Linked DNA regions of Homo sapiens: region 1 is linked to region 2. The links come from fine-mapping of genetic effects on gene expression. A gene starts in region 2. The other region holds a variant in brackets. All regions are shown on one strand. Distances are between the middles of the regions. Region 1 holds the start of FAM218A (family with sequence similarity 218 member A). Region 2 holds the start of TRIM61 (tripartite motif containing 61).

Region 1 (2,913 bases), 20 kb before region 2:
ACTGAAAACGGGGAGGCGGCTCAAAGAAAAGAGTAAGAGAAATGAGCTTTTCTGGAACGAGGCATTGATAACGCTGAAACATGATTAGCCTTTTGAAATAAATCTTTCGTTTATTTATTTTTTTGAGACAAGCTCTCGTTCTGTCGTCCAGACTGAGGTGCAGTGGCGCCATCCTGGCTCACTGCAACCTCAACTCCCCAGGTTCAAGCGATTCTCCCACCTCAGCCTCCGGAGTAGCTGGGACCACAGGGGCGGGCCAACATGTCCGGCTAATTTTTGTATTTTTTGTACAGACAGGGTTTCACCATGTTGGCCTGGCTGGTCTCAAACTCCAGAGCTCATGTGATCCGCCCACCTCAGCCTACCAAAGTGCTGGGATTACAGGCATGAGCTTCCATGCCGGGTATAAAAGGAAGCTTTTAAATTGTGGAGTATTTCATACATCCATAATAGTAGAGAGAACATTATGAAGAACGTACACATAAAAAGAAACCAATTTCTATCATTTGAATTAACAATCTTTATAACCCCAGCAACTTCTCCTGCCAATGGAGTAAATTCCCAGACATCTTATAATTTCATCTGTATATTTCATCTTATAATTTCATTATTTATTCCCTAAAAGACAATATCTCAATTATCATAGTGTTACTGTAACTTTTAATAAGCTGTTCAGTGGGAATTATAACCATATTTTTCTCCAACCAGTTATAAATAAGATTCAATAAATTAAAACAGCAACTGGAATTCTCTTCTGTTAAGGCGGGGCAGGGAGAGCCCTCAGTCTGGCACAGGTAGGGTTGGGTGGCAGAAGAGCAAAGCAAACAGCTGAGGTTCCTTCAGAATGCAACTTTCTCACAGAACACAAGGCTCTCAAGGGGCTTCAGCACCCCAAGCACTGCAGCGTTTCTCCCAGGAGGCTGGGCGAGTCCGTAGCGGAAGTCGGAGCGGCAGAGCAGTGATTGGGTGCGGCCGGCACCGTCTCTGGGCTTCGACTTCCGGGTGAGACCGTGAAGGTGTGGCGCGACGTTGGAGACCGGGGCAGCGCCA[T/C]GTACCACAGTGGATGGAAGGATGCGCGGTGCGGCGGGGCAGCTGTCCTCTTCTCCCCGGACCCAGCGCCTGGAGAGCCAGCCCTGCAGGGTGGGCTGGGCGAGCCAAACTGCGTTCCTGGTGCAGGGCTTCGGGTCTCCCTAACAGACCTTATACGCTGACCGGCGGCCGCCATGGCAGTGTCTCTTTGCTCAGACATCCAGGGACGACCACATTCGTCCAACAGCGGTCGCTCCACCAATCCTGGGAGAAGCGAATCGTTTTCTCCGCGTGCCCTGTCAGCCGCTCATGGTGCCCAGAGAGGAATTTTAGTGGCAGCATTCCGGCTGTCACGCCACCGAAATTGCCAGGCCACTCCAAGTCAGAAGGACCACCAGGAAAAGTCAGGAAGAGAACCACCATCAGGTCCCAGCCTCTTTTTGTGACAAGGACTAGAGGGTTTGGGTCTGCAGTGGGCTGGCTCCCGCTGGGCTCACCTGTCCTATAGAGCAGGCTGCCTCAAGGAAGAAGCTCACAGGGGACATCTGACATCTGAAACAGCAAGTGTAAAATGCTTTAAATAAGCCAAAACTAAACCAATCGTTATGTTAACTAAAAATACATGAATGCTACCGAAGATAGTCGAATATTAGAGGAAGAGATTAAACTCTGATTTTGAGCACTTTGTGCTTTATTCGGAAAATGAATAAGATGCAGTTCTGAAAACCTGAAAATATAAAGAATAGGATATGATACGCACACTAGATGAAAACAAAACTTTCAGACCATATTTTCTTATTTAAAGCTCTAATAAGTGAGATAGCAGAGTAAACTATTCACTCAAATAATTAGTAACTGATATAAGGGTATGTATCAATAACAGGTATTAAGACAAAAACTTTATGAGCTTTTCCATTTTAACAAGGGATGATGATTCTAGACTTCTGCCACAACATTATGGTCGACAAAACATTCTTAATTCATTTTACATAGATCTGACTCTAGATTCTGAAACAGCAAGTCATAATCTTGTATCTCTAAAGATAGAATACAGTGCGATTTGGAAAGACACCACAAAAACTCATGATCCAAAAAAGATTAAGGCTGTTATTACCAGGAGGAAGAGAAAGAGGACAAAATCAAACTGGATAGATATAATAGAGTTGTTTGTTAGAATTGTCTTCCCAGGAGATGGAAAAAGACGCCATCACAATAGGATTCATGCTTTAGTTTTCAGCTATAGAAATGTAATAACTTTGCCAAAGTAATTACACTACATAGAGTGGCAATCGTTCTATTAAAAGTAAGACCCAGTAATGTTAGGATTTGTTCTGGACAATGAAGGGGATGAGGTTTAATCTTATGACTTGAATGCCAGGTCTGAAATCTTTTCTTCAAGTGATATTTTTATGAAACTACTTAGGCTGTGTTTCACACTGGGTATGATTTCTAACCTCTTATAACCTGTACAGTAATAGATTATGAAGGATGAATTATTTGAAAGCTATTTTGTATTATTTAGGAGAGGAGCTCTTCAATTCTGAATTGTCTGCCACTTACAAGCAGAAGAAAGTTTTTTTCTTTCATTATTTTAGCAACTATCAATAAAACAGTATTAGAAATGCCTACTCTTCAGAGATGTAATGGGAATAAATTGTAAAGTACTTTTGATATTCTAAGATGAAAGATGGTATTACACAGTCAATAATTCAATGCTTCCCACATTATGAATTTTATCAAAATTATGTAGAGAGCTATTAGTTCATTCCAGCAACAAAACAGGCTTATATAAAAACAAAAACCTCCTGGGTCATGCCATCCTACACCAAATTCCTGTTAAACAGAGGCATGATTTATTCCAGTGACCTTGCTATTTCTTCATAA
Region 2 (2,913 bases):
AATAATCAATAAAAACTGAGGGAACTCAGAGGCCGGTGCCGGTGCAGGTCCTTGGTATGCTGAGCGCCGGTCCCCTGGGCCCACTGTTGTTTCTCTATACTTTGTCTCTGTCTTATTTCTTTTCTCAGTCTCTCGTCCCACCCGACTAGAAATACCCACAGGTGTGGAGGGGCAGGCCACCCCTTCATAAAGGACACAAGAGGACTCACTCCAGGTATCATTGTGCCCTCCTTTCCCCAAGCATACACCCAAAGCAGTCTTCTCTACTATTTAAAATCAGGACATTAAGTGAACAGAACAGCTCTGTAGGCACAGTCACCACCCTAGTTTAAACCACTTATGTCTCTCTCCTAGATACACAATGGTGCCTCCAATTTCTGAAGTCTGTAGCTAAACTGACCTTTTCAAATACAAACAGAATCCTTTCATATTTCAACTGAAAACATTCCACTGGTCCTTTATTACTTTATGGAAGCAATTCTCAAATCTTACCTTGCATTATAATCACCTGGAGGTCTTGGTAAAAGATTGCCTGGGCCACATCCCCAGTTTCTGACTCAGTAGGGCTGGTTTTTTCCTAAGTTCCCAGATGATGCTGCTGGCCTGCGGACTGTACTTTGTGAACCTATGCTTTAAGGAAAACAAAGCAAAAAGATCCATTAAGATCTAGTCCAAGTTTTTTGCCTAGCTCCCATCATGTCACATATCACAGTTATGTGATTTTACAGCTACTCTGCAATTCTTTACCTAACTGTAAAAACCCCTCACCAGGCAGCAAGCTTCTTGGTGGCAATACGTCTCTAGCTTGTTTGAGGAATAAATAAAACCTGTGGTAGATTCCAAGCTCTCAGTTTCAACCATCATCATACTGGCTGATTCTTAACATGCCTGCACCTAAAGCGCCTCATCTACAAAGTTGAAATGATAATTCGTACCTGTAAGACCCTTGTGAGGATTACAGGATGCTTACATAGGTCGAGGGTGCAGACGACGTAGGCTGGTGGGTTCTCAACTGGCAGCTACCACTTCGCTCCCTTAACTCCCCAACCCCCACTCCCAAACACGTACATTAACTCTTTGAAGATAACATAGCCACTTCATAAACCCTAATTCAGATCATAACATTTAAAGCTTAATTGATACAGGCTCAACACCCCCATTCTAACTCTACAATCCTGAATTTTTCACAAGAGCTACGCCAGACACTAAGGAGATCCAGTCGTGGGCAGGCAGCGACCCGGAGGTTTAGGCACAGAGAATGTTCAAGAAGCCCCTGTCCAGTTAAGCCTCCTGGCGAGGCCCTTCTGGGCCTTTCCTGCGGCCTTCCCAGCTCACCTGGAGCAGACGGATCAGCAAATCCGGCCAAAGAATACTCAGGACCCACCGAGCCCCCGCGAGGAAGGACTCATACCCCAACCCCACCAAGTGGGCTGCTTCCTGCCTGGGGCTCAGCCTGCGCGGTGGTTGGCAGTTGCCCCGGAAGTGGGCGGGAAGGACCTGCGCATGCTCTGTGACCCTGGGTGCAGGGATTGTGTGAAGATTGAGAGCTGGGGGCGCCCTCTTCCGTGATCAGGGCCCCGTTGGCCCCAACTGGCATTTAATTCCCCTGGCTGTCTTTTCGGATTCTTATCACTTTTTATGTATATGAGTAAACTTGAGGGTCCAAGTAAGTCTGCAAGTTGGTTTTAAAAGCTTCACCAGCACAGCGTCCCCTCCCAGATGGTGAGGGAGTGGAGAGCTTTGCAGGGTCAACTGCTTCCCGTAGCCTGGGGTCGCAGGGTGGAGTCGTTGAGCACTCCCTATGCTTGAAAGAGGAATAGAAGCCCCTTTGGATTAGTTTGCATCTCAGTGGGTGAGTGGGTGGATCTCTCCCACCCTGTGGGATTGTGCCCTACCCTATGAACTCAGGTTTACCTGAGGAAGTGACATTTCAGGCGGAATTTGAGGGATGAAGAGGCATTCGTTGGATCAATTCCACGGTCAAAGTCTTCAAGGCTGGAAGAAGAGCCAATGTGGAGCCTCTCAACTTTAAAGAATTTAGTACAGGCCGGGCATAGTGGCTCACACCTGTAATCCAAGCACTTTCAGAGGCAGAGGTGGGAGGATCGCTTGAGGCCAGGAGTTCAGGACAAGCCTAGGTAACATTGCCAGACCCTGCGTCTACAAAATATTTTAGAAATGATTTTTTTTTCTTTTAATAAGAGACGGAATCTCTCTTTCGCCCAGGCTGGAGTGCAGTGGCGCGATCTTGGCTCTCTGCAACCTCTGCCTCCCAGTTTCAAGCAATTCTCCTGCCTCTGTCTCCCGAGTAGCTGGGTCTATAGGCGCACGCCGCCACGCCTGGCTAATTTTTTGTTGTTGTATTTTTAGTAGAGACGGGGTTTCATCGTGTTGCCCAGGCTGGATTCGAACTCCTGAGATCAGGCAATCCGCCCGCCTCGGCCTCCCAAAAGTGCCAGGATTACAGGCGTGAGCCACCTCACCCAGCCAGAAATGATAATTTTATTTTTATTTTTATTTTTTTTTTGAGACGGAGTCTCGCTCTGTGGCCCAGGCTGGAGTGCAGTTGCGTGATCTCGGCTCACTGCAAGCTCCGCCTCCCGGGTTCACGCCATTCTCCTGCCTCAGCCTCCAGAGTAGCTGGGACTACAGGTGCCTGCCACCACGCCCAGCTAATTTTTTGTATTTTTAGTGGAGACGGGGTTTCACCGTGTTAGCCAGGATGGTGTCGATTTCCTGACCTCGTGATCCGCCCGCCTCGGCCTCCCAAAGTGCTAGGAGTACAGGCGTGAGCCACCGCGCCCTGCCTAGAGATGATAATTTTTAAAAACTTGGTACAAAAGGAACTGAAAGAGGTCATTTGGTTGGCACTACAACGTGGGAAATTGCAAGAAGTATAAAATATGGAAAATG

Evidence for each region. PIP is the estimated chance that this variant, and not a neighbour inherited with it, causes the effect.
Region 1: its variant is fine-mapped to the expression of TRIM61 in whole blood (INTERVAL, PIP above 0.99). The same link has a PIP of 0.9 or more in lung.

What each region holds. Positions count from the first base shown.
Region 1 is chr4:164,955,960-164,958,872 of GRCh38, forward strand. FAM218A (family with sequence similarity 218 member A) reads left to right here and starts at 989. Exons shown (of 1, transcript NR_160935.1): 1 at 989-2,913. It also overlaps a transcript of TRIM61 not described here. RefSeq lists enhancers at 739-788, 1,089-1,248. The variant T/C (reference allele first, on the strand shown) is at 1,051.
Region 2 is chr4:164,976,196-164,979,108 of GRCh38, forward strand. TRIM61 (tripartite motif containing 61) reads right to left here and starts at 1,462. Exons shown (of 3, transcript NM_001414904.1): 1 at 1,336-1,462; 2 at 493-630. RefSeq lists enhancers at 1,571-1,650, 1,681-1,740.